2 separate regions of the Homo sapiens genome follow, and region 1 is linked to region 2. A link means that fine-mapping ties the variant in region 2 to the expression of a gene that starts in the linked region. Tissue or cell type: whole blood. Region 2 holds a variant in brackets; the other region holds the start of a gene. All regions are shown on one strand. Distances are between the middles of the regions.

Region 1 (5,148 bases), 140 kb before region 2:
AGTTGTCCCTAGTAAATGTTTCCTAAAGGAAGAACAAAGGAAAGAACAGAATGAACTCAGAAGAGAGATCAGAGTGGGCTTGATGACTTCACAAAGGAAGTAAGCCTTTACTAGGCCTTAAATTGAAGAATGGGATTTGGTTGGAGACAAAGGAGCTGAGGAGGAGACATTTCAGTCAGTGGAAAACATCAAGTACTGGCAGGATATGTTTGTCATATTGGGGGCACAGAGACCAGAGAGACAAGAAGAAAAATCAAGTTGTGGCCATGAAGTTGGGTAAGCATAATGGGGCTGGGTTGTAGAGCTGTTTGAATTGAATCCTGCCAGCCGAGGAGGCAGGGCAAAATTTAATCTGGTAGCGATAAGCAGGATGGGGAGGGGAGATGATGGAGATGCCAGAGGTAAGGGGCCCAACCCATAATCAGTGACTGTTATAATAATTGGAGTGATGTTGGGAGAACATGGACCCAAGTGGTGGCCATGGGAATGGAGAGGAGATATTGTATACAATGGGGATCTCCCAGACCTGGGCCTGCTGGAGGTCTTGGCAAGAAGGACCCACAGTCTTTCCAGAATAGGCCCAGGCTGGGGTAAGCAAAAAGGAGTTTAGGGAGTTGGGGATGGGAGGGCCAAATAGCTAAATAAGCCCATAAATAATAAACATATACATATATAGTTTTGAGATGATGCCCATGAACAATAAACATTTTATATATATAATATATACAAATAGCTAAACAAGCCCATAAATAATAAACATTATATATATATTTTTGAGATGATGCCCATAAATAATAAACATTATATATATATACATATACATATATATGTGTGTGTATATATATATATTTTTTTCTTTTTTTTTTTTTTTTTTGAGATGGAGTCTCACTCTGTTGCCAGGTTGGAGTGCAGTGGTGAGATCTCGGTTCACTGCAACCTCCGACTCCCGGGTTCAAGAGATTCTCCTATCTCAGCCTCCCAGGTAACTGGGACTACAGGTGCCCACCACCACACTCAGCTAACTTTTTTGTAGTTTTAGTAGAGATGGGGTTTCACCATGTTGGTCAGGCTAGTCTTGAACTCCTGACCTCAGGTGATCCACCTGCCTCAGCCTCCCAAAGTGCTGGGATTACAGGCGTGAGCCACCACGCCAAGCCAACATTATATTTTTCATGGATCAGGTGTAAAGTTGTTGCTGAGAGACTTAGAGGATTTCTAAGTACGGAAAGATGAGACCTGAGATTAGATATATTTTCACTCTCCACAGACAAGTCCAGGAAGTGTTCCTAGAGAATGTGGCAGGGGTGTAGAAAGCAGAAACTATGTATTCATTCCAACTTGTAGCTATTTAATAAATGTTTAATAAGTAGTATGGGCACTAAGCTAGTCTTACAATAATATTGTGGAGCTTACTGTCTAGCATAGGTCAGTGGAAGGCCCCGGTCTAAATAATAGCTCCTATTTTTTAAGCACCCATCTGTGCCAGTCCCTAGAGACTTACTATTTCTGAATCTCAGAAGAACCCTCAGAAATAGACATTGGCACCCTGATCTGACCGGTGAGGACACTAAGGCTTTCAGGCATAACTTGCCCAAGGAATGGGTGGAACTAGCACGCAGCCCAAGGCCCCTGTGTCTTGTTGCCTCCAGACCTGAGCCTTTCACTTAGAAACTACATGAGTCTCAAAGATGGGTCAACGAAATAGTTTTTGTCCCTACAACACAGAGCAAACATGATATATACAAAGGCAAATGATTAGTGTGTGACAGGGAATGCTGGGGAGAGGAAACAGCAGAGAAATGCTATGAAACCCAGAGCAGCAGGAACTTGGGCCTCTTCTAGGAATGGTGTAGACCCAAGAAAGGAGGGGCTCGTTTGAGGTTTCTGGAGGAGTCTCTGCCAGGTAGGAACTGAGATGAGATGGGTGATCCTGGAAGTGGCACAAACACTGAGGGGAATCCCCCAACCTGGGCCTGCTGGAGTTCCTGGCAGGAAGGACCTACCCAGGGTCAGACTTCTTTCCAGGGCCAAACCCTGCCCAGAGCTGAGGCAAGACCCCTTAGGCTATAGAGATGGGGGTGAAAACAGATGCTTCTCCAATTCTTCCTTTCCTCTTTTCAGTCTGGCTGAGAATCTGGGGGAGGAAAGTCCCTGGGGTAGAGGGGAAGTGAGAGCTGCCACATTGGGCCTGGGCAGAGGGGCAGAGCTAGGAGATGGAGCTAAGTGTGGCTTTGCAAGTTGTCTATATTTGCATGCTGAGCTCACTGCTGCTCTTTTTCTCCCCAGAAAATAAAATTACATCATGGTAGGGGGAAGGCAGGAGTGGGGCATGTTTGGGAAAGGTGAGAGGCACGCAAGAGGGCCTGAAGGCATCATCCTGGAAAGAGAAGATCCAGGGCTCCTCAAGTCCCCATGTGGCCCCAACCCCTCACTCCCAATGTGGATAAGTCTGATCAGTCATTTTCCACTGCGCCCCTGACCCTTAAGGCAAGGCAAGAAGTTTTTACAAATATTAAAGCCAGCAGCTAAGAGAATCCAGCCCCCAAAGGCTTTCCAACCCCCTAAACCAAACCTACTCTGTGCCTCCCAGGGGTCCTAGGCACCGTGGTCATCCAAAGGTCAAAAGGGGAGGAGGGTGCCCTACTGGGTAAGAATTAAATATGAGAATTGTTTCGCAGTTCAGGGGGAAGAGACCGTCTCCGCTCCAGCCCTCCGCCCAATTCTGTCCCCCATCCTAGGAGTCTTCCAGAACCCCAGCCCCTCGGTCCCCCGCCCCCTCCTGCCTCTCCATCCCTCCCCCTCCTCCCGCCATTCCCCGCCCCCCGCCCCTCCCCGGCTCTGACATCACCGGCCAGCCGGGTGGAGTGAGCGGCGCTGGGCTCGGGCTCCGGCTCCGCGGGCGGAAGAGGCGGCGGCGGCGGCAGAAGCGGCGGCGGCGGCGGCGGGAGCCGAGGAGGAGGTTCCGGACGCTGCTTAGGAACCGGGGACTCAGGAGTGCCCGCGCCCTGAGCGCTCAGCTCCAGAGGCGGTGAGAGGGGCGGAGAGGAGACATGTCGCGGGGAAGGGGCAGATTTCGGGGTCTAGGCTTGGAGGGGCAACGATCTGGGACACCGGGGGCCAGACGGGGAGTGTGGGGACCCCGGACGAGTCCACTTTGTGTCAGGCCTCACGGGGTCCGTCCCTCGGTCGGTGCGTCCCGAGCGCCGAGCGTGTGCTGGAGGCGGCGTGGCTCCGGCCAGCCCGTTCCACGCTGAACGGCAGTTTGGGAGTCGGACCGGGGCCTGTGGATTAGGATGCAGCCTGCTTCCCGCCCAGCCGGCTCGGCCAGGCCAGCGCCCGCCCCTCCCTCCCCGCTCAGGCTTCGGACTCGCCTCCGCTGGCGGTCTCCCGGCCCAGCCCTGTCTCGGTTCCGCGGGCGGCTGGTACCATGTGCCCTCACCCCCAGCTCACTGCACCTGGGGAAGAGGTGGGCTTGGCGGAAAGCTTGTCCAGAGGGAAGGAGGAGCTGGGGGTGTAGAGAAGTGATGTATATCTAACGTAAAAACCCTTATTAATTTCATATAATCCGTGTCAAAACTGACAGGGAAACACGCACACCTATAAGGCACGCCAGCACACACAGTGACACACACCCATGTGACTTATACACATAGTCTAGCACACTCCAAATCACAAACGTCCCTGGACTACGCATCCGGCCGCCCACCACACCCCCACTCTGTGGGGTGGGGCATCCCATGAGGAGTCTTCTGAACTGCGGGCTCCAAGTCATCAGTCCGACAGGACAGCTGAGTGGACAGAAAGGGCCACTGTCCCCAAATCCATCCTGATTTTCTGGCAGCTTTTCCCAGCCCCATGGTTTCAGATTGTTCCTCTTTAAAACTGTGGGGAAAGATGGGAGAAAATCTTGGTCTCATTCCTCTAACACAAGGAGACAGGATTTTGCGGACTAATGAGGGTAGGGGCTTCTGGTGGCTTCTCTTCCTGGGTCCAGTTAGGGCTTAGCGTGCTGGGAGTGGCTAGTTTCTGGGTAAGAGTGGCCAAGGGATGGAGGAGGAGGGGGTGGAAGAAACGGAGAGGAAAAAGAATGGGTATGAGTCAGCCAAGAATGGAACCCAAGTCAGAGAGAGAATGAGAGGAATGTGTGTGAGAAGCAGACAGACATCTCCAGAGAGGTCTAGAGATAGTCAGGGAACCAGGGAGAGGGAGGAAGTGAGAGAAAGAGATGGTCAGAGAAGTGCAAACAGTGTTTGAGAGTGCACTAAACAAATTAGGGAGGATGAAGGTTGGGGGAGACCACTGGGAGTTAGGGAAAGTGGTACGTGTGTCTGGGCCCCAGGCTGTCAGAGCGATTAGCTTTAATTGCTCTTCCCTTTGTGGTTAAATACTCCATTGGGGAAATTGCCAGTGATGCCCTAGGCTGCAGGCTTCCCTGGTTGCCTACTTCCTCAATTCCGTGCCCATCATGTGTGGATGTATTATCATGCATGAAGAGGGTCACAGAATCACAGAGCGCCTCACTCTCTCACACAGATCCTCACGCACAATGTCATGATGGATATCTTCACCAGCTGGTAGGCAGCCAACCACTGAATCTCCAAGCCACTCCGACCAAACTTACTCTGTCTTTTGTAGCAGGGATGCTCACCCCTTCCTAATTGCAGCTCCGAATATTCAGATGGGGACAGTGAAGCACAGATCTCAGGAGTCCTAAGTATTCATGGCTACCACTAAGTTGGATAGGTGAGTAGGAAATGCTAGAAGGGGTGAAAGCCTATAGAAAGGAGGAAAAGAGAGACTGAAAGATGAAGTAGAAAGGAAATGCATGACAAAGAGTGAGAGAGATGGAGAGAGACAGAAATAGAAGCAGGGAGTGCCACACCAGAAGAGTGGAAACAGAGATGGGCTGGGGAGAGTCCTAGGCCCCATTCCCCTCCTCGCCATCAGCCGGCCCTCCTCTGCTCTGCCTGATCCAGTGCCAGCTATCTCCTGATGCCCCATCTTGGGTCTGGCTCTTTCTAGACCAAGGGCTGAAGGCTAATCCTTGTCCCCATGCCCAAAGGTAATCCATTTTGCTTCTTGGACTGAAGTGAACATTTTAGGGCCCAGATGTCCTGCCTCTCGTCACTTCCAGGCTGACCCTGGAGC
Region 2 (5,148 bases):
TCCTGCTTAGGAGATTTGACACTTATATTGGACTGTATGTAGGCAGTTACAGATAACCGTCTGTCAAGCTAGGCAAGATAATTAATAAGAACTAACATTTAGTAAATGCTGCATACCAAGCTTTTTACATGTGCATCTCATACAACCCCAACCACAACCCCACAAAATAGGTCTTACTGTTATTGTCACTTTATAAATGATGAAACTAAAACTTAAAGAAGTTGAGTAACTTTCCCAAGATCATACTGGTAATAAGTGATGATGCCAGGATCTGGTGGCCCGAGCACTAAGCTGAGAGACCTTTTTTTTTTGACACGGAGTTTCACTCTTGTCCCCCAGGCTGGAGTGCAATGGCACGATCTCGGCTCACGGTGACCTCTGCCTTCTAGGTTCAAGTGATTCTCCTGCCTCAGCCTCTTGAGTAGCTGGGATTACATGCACCTGCCACCATGCCCAGCTAATTTTTGTATTTTTAGTAGAGATGGTGTTTCACCATGTTGGCCAGGCTGGTCTCGAACTCTTGACCTCAAGTGATCCACCCACCTTGGCCTCCCAAAATGCTGGGATTACAGGCGTGAGCCACCGCACCCAGCCGAGCCAGCACTCTTAACCACCCTATTATACTGTTTTTTAAGGAGAAAAAAGTCTCATATTCTATGGTGTCCAGTTATCACTTGCACTCTGAACTTTTTGGAACCAAAATGGGCTAAAGGCAATGAACTATCTGAAGAGAAGGCACTGAAAATGCCAAATAGGCTGGGCGCAGTGGCACATGCCTGTAATCCCAGCACTTCAGGAGGTCAAGGCGGGTGGATCACTTGAGGTCAGGAGTTTGAGACCAATCTGCCAGCATGGTGAAACCCCCCCATCTCTACTAAAAATACAAAAATTAGCCGGCTGGCTGCTATGGCATGCCTGTAGTCCTAGCTTCTCGGGAGGCGGAAGCAGAAGAATCCCTTGAGCCCAGGAGGCGGAGGTTGCAGTGAGCTGAGATTGTGCCACCATACTCCAGTATAGGTGACAGAGTGAGACACTGTCTGAAAAAAAAAAAAAAAAAAAAAAAGAAAATGCTGAATAATTGCAAGAGGAATTAGTGAAGCATTCTATTTATCCTTTTTTAAAACTTTTTTTCCTTAAATTCAACTGACAGGCCGTTTATTTTCACACTTTGTGTGTTCCAAAAGAAGGTTCCATGACACTGTGGCTTTAAAAACTATCAAAATCATAGGGCAGGAAAAGTAGTAATCTAAAGGCTAACCTGCTGTCTTCAGATTTTGTTTCCCATGGACAATAGCTCTGTCAGAATGTAGTTTTGCAGATAAGCAGGAAACTTGGGGTCTGATACTGGCTTCTTCATCATCAAATTGATCACCTCTGAATTTCAGTTTACCCCTGGAATAATGGTTGGAGTACTTGCATAAAGCTGAAAGTCAAATACCTCTTAATAGTTGTTTATTGATGACGCTAGGTAAATAGGGTGGTCTCAAAAGTGCTGTATAATTTCCTGAAGCCTTCTTCCCATTTGATAAGAGAAAACTGGGACACTGAGAAGTGAAGGACTTGTTCGTGGAAGCAGTTACTACTTTTTTAGCCATCTTTCCCTGAGCTATAGTATCTGTTAATTGTCCCATGTCCCTGCTATACAAAGCACTGGGAGTAGGTTGACTGGTTCCAAACAGCCCCAAATAAAGTTTTTGTTGTACTTAGTTTCTTTTTTTTTTTTTTGAGATGCAGTCTCGCCCTCTCGCCCAGGCTGGAGTGCAATGGCACAATCTCAGCTCACTGCAACTTCCTCCTCCCAGGTTAAAGCAATTCTCCTGTCTCAGCTTCTTGAATAGCTGGGATTACAGGCGCGTGCCACCGTGCCCAGCTAATTTTTTGTATCTTTAGTAGAGGCGGGGCTTCACCATGTTGGCCAGGCTGGTCTCGAACCCCTGACCTCGTGATCTGCCCGCCTTGGCCTCCCAAAGTGCTGG[G/A]ATTACAGGCATGAGCCACCATGCCCAGCCCTCTGGACTTAGTTTCTGAACTGGTTTGTAGGTAGAAGAGAGCTAGGTCCAGGGTGGGCTGAGATCAGACTGCTGGTCTTGCTGGAACCTCACTATAAAGTACAGAAGGCCAGGACCCCAACCTCTTGTAACTAGGCTCTAAGAAAACTCCTTTGGGAATAAGTCATTCTACTCTATGTTCTTAAAACAGCTCTGTAGGAAGCAAAGCCTCTAGAGGTAAAGCCACGTGCCAGTACAGAGAAACAAGAGGGGGTAAGCGGGACTGTGGCCACTTCCTCATTAAGATCTTGGTTCCTTTTCAACCTACTTATTTCCAAATCTTACTTCGTCATATCTGTCTTTTCTGAGCAGGCTCCGCCCTTTTTAATTAGTGTAGCTAACATGATAAAACTAAGGAGAAAAAAGTGATACCCAGATTTGATTTCTGATTATAATACTCTGCTTCTCTTAGACGCTTTAAAGTTCTCAAAGGGGGCTTTAAATAGGTTTCTTTTCCCTCCCTCCCTCCTTCTATCCTTTCTTCCTTCTTTCGTCTGTCCCCACAGTATGAGATGAATAGAGGTAGAAAACCTCATTGAAGGCGCAGAGAAAATAAGCAAGTTACTTAAGACTACACCATTACTAGTTGGAACCCAGATTAGAATCCAGGTTTTTTTCAGTCCAGTATCATAGTTTGTCTTCCTGTCCTCGCTGGAGTTGAAGTTTTGGGGTGTGTGTGTGTGTGTGTCAGAGTCTCACTATGTCACCCAGGCTGGAGTGCTGTGGCACAATCTCAGCTCACTGCAGCCTCCGCCTCCCAGGTTCAAGCAATTCTCCTGCCTCAGCCTTCTGAGTAGCTAGCATTACAGGTGTGCACCATCACACTTGGCTAATTTTTGTATTTTTAGTAGAGATGGGGTTTCGCCATGTTGGCCAGGCTGGTCTCAAACTCCTGACCTCAAGTGATCCACCCACCCACTTCGGCCTCCCAAAGTACTGGGATTACAGGCATGAGCCACTGTGCCCGGCCGAAGTTATATATGTTTTAGTTGCCACACTATCTGTTCCTTTTCCCATGTTTTAAATGCTGTGGCAAGGGCCGGGCATGGTGGCTCACTCCTGTAACCCTAGCACTTTGGGAGGCTGAGTGGGCATTTAAAGTGATGCTGATATACAGCCAGGGCTGAGAACTACTGGTCTAAAATAATTGATGAATAACATATCCAATTTTCTGTAGGGAGAAGACTCACAGGGAGACCCTAGGATATCTCCACACAGATCACTGGGGACTTAAGGAGTATTACCTAATGCCTTGAATTATGTAGAATTCAAAGTATTCTGGACTCTGGGTCATCCATCCTCTAATACAGTGCTTCCCAATCTTTATCATGTCATGAGACACATAGAAAATGTTATTTGTATAGCATCCTGGCACATAGAGAAATGGGTGATATTTTCAGGGCATCCTGGGGTAAATGATAAGTAGGCTCCTGGCTGGAGGTGACTTTGGAAACCCTAGGTTTCCTGGAATGAGGAGAACCAATGAGAGCACATCTCTGATCCATTCGAGGCTTATCAATTGGGAAGCTCTGTTTTAGAAACCTCAGAGTTCTTGACTAACCTCATCTAAAACCGGCCAGAAGCAAGTAAAGTCATTCCCAAAAAGGGCAAAAGGAATGACGATCCAGGAAAGCTCCTGAGGCCAAGGGCATGTATGCATGTGTTTTTACAAAGGAAGATTCAAAGCTAAAACCCTGAGCTAGAGATTTAGTGGCATTTCCTAGAGAAAATATAGGTTTGAAAACTTTGGTGTCTATTGTTGTAGAATCTTATGTATATGGCTAAATAAGGTTGAGGGCAGAGGGCAAAAAAATGAAGTTCACAGAACCTTTCTGGCATATAATGAGTCCTCTTGTGCTCTTTTATATTCCATTCCCTCCTGATAACCTTCAGATGGAGCTGGGGCAACAGCTTTTCAGTTCAAATCTAGAGGTGCCTGTATTCACCCAAATATGTTGTGACATCTTTAGGGGATAAAAGATACGCAGAATCAGTGAGGCAAAGTCAGAATTGTTAACTATGGGAGCTTTAATTTGACTCATTCTGTCCTGGCAGCTTCAATTAGTGGAGACACAGGGGTTATCCACGTAGTAGAGAAAGAGGAGGACCTACAGTGGGTATTGACTGATGGCCCCAACCCCCCTTACATGGTTCTGCTGGAGAGCAAGCATTTTACCAGGTAAGAACTAGATGTATCTGCTGGGAAAACATCCATAGAGGGAAAGTTTCAGTGAACAGTCCTCACACTTATTAGTGAAAACTTCCCTTGGCTGCCCTGGTCTGGTCAGGGGAGAGGGCAGGGTGGTCCTCAGAAGGAAAGGTGTACCATCAAAAGAAATGATCTTGAGCTTAGGGCTAAATTTCACCTACCTGTCCCTGAGTAACCCTGGGCATCCCTCCCCTCCCTCCCTGGGGTCCTTACTCACTAAAGCTCTACTTTTTAGAGCAGATCATTGTCCAGACTCAGAATTTAGAGACTGAAAGGGAAGAAATAAGTCAACAGTTTGATTCCCCTAGTTCCCCATTTGTTTCCATCCTGCAGGCAGAATGTCAGGCTGTCTGATACCTTCCTGTGTTCCTTCATGGAATTCCTTTCCTATTCCAGGGATTTAATGGAGAAGCTGAAAGGGAGAACCAGCCGAATTGCTGGTCTTGCAGTGTCCTTGACCAAGCCCAGTCCTGCCTCAGGCTTCTCTCCTAGTGTACAGTGCCCAAATGATGGGTTTGGTAAGTGTCCCAAAGGATCAGGAGAGCCTACTGTCACCTAAGGCTCACTGTTGCTTCGGTCTTACGTCTTTGTGAGGGATGTATATGTGTTTGTGTCTGTGTGTAGTGTCAGTAACTGACTCCCAAACAGGGGGTAGTGTTTATTTGTCTTTGCTGCTCATCCCTTCCCTCTCCTGCTTCCCCTTCCTTTGCCTTACCTGGCATTATCTCTTTTTGTCACGTGTTCACATCCCTAATCTTACAGCCTAAGACTCCCTGATACCATTGTCTTTCTATTTTAGTGTGGATGGTAATAGACTTCATGCCTACTTCTTTGAGTCACCACCTCCTTTTGAACTCTTAGTCCCAACTGAAAGATTCTTCTGCCGTCACCTGG

What was found. PIP is the estimated chance that this variant, and not a neighbour inherited with it, causes the effect.
Region 1: it holds the start of PEA15, and the variant in region 2 is fine-mapped to the expression of PEA15 in whole blood (INTERVAL, PIP 0.93).

Annotation. Positions count from the first base shown.
Region 1 is chr1:160,202,495-160,207,642 of GRCh38, forward strand. It overlaps PEA15 (proliferation and apoptosis adaptor protein 15), which reads left to right and starts at 2,890. Exons shown (of 4, transcript NM_003768.5): 1 at 2,890-3,028. It overlaps PEA15-AS1 (PEA15 antisense RNA 1), which reads right to left. Exons shown (of 5, transcript NR_123725.1): 3 at 2,844-3,882; 4 at 2,577-2,640; 5 at 1-22. RefSeq lists enhancers at 2,096-2,195, 2,546-2,595 and a silencer at 2,746-3,005.
Region 2 is chr1:160,344,899-160,350,046 of GRCh38, forward strand. It overlaps NCSTN (nicastrin), which reads left to right. Exons shown (of 17, transcript NM_015331.3): 3 at 4,101-4,224; 4 at 4,651-4,772. Among named protein-coding and RNA genes, the nearest start is that of NCSTN, 4.1 kb to the left of the region's middle. RefSeq lists an enhancer at 1,920-1,969. The variant G/A (reference allele first, on the strand shown) is at 1,977.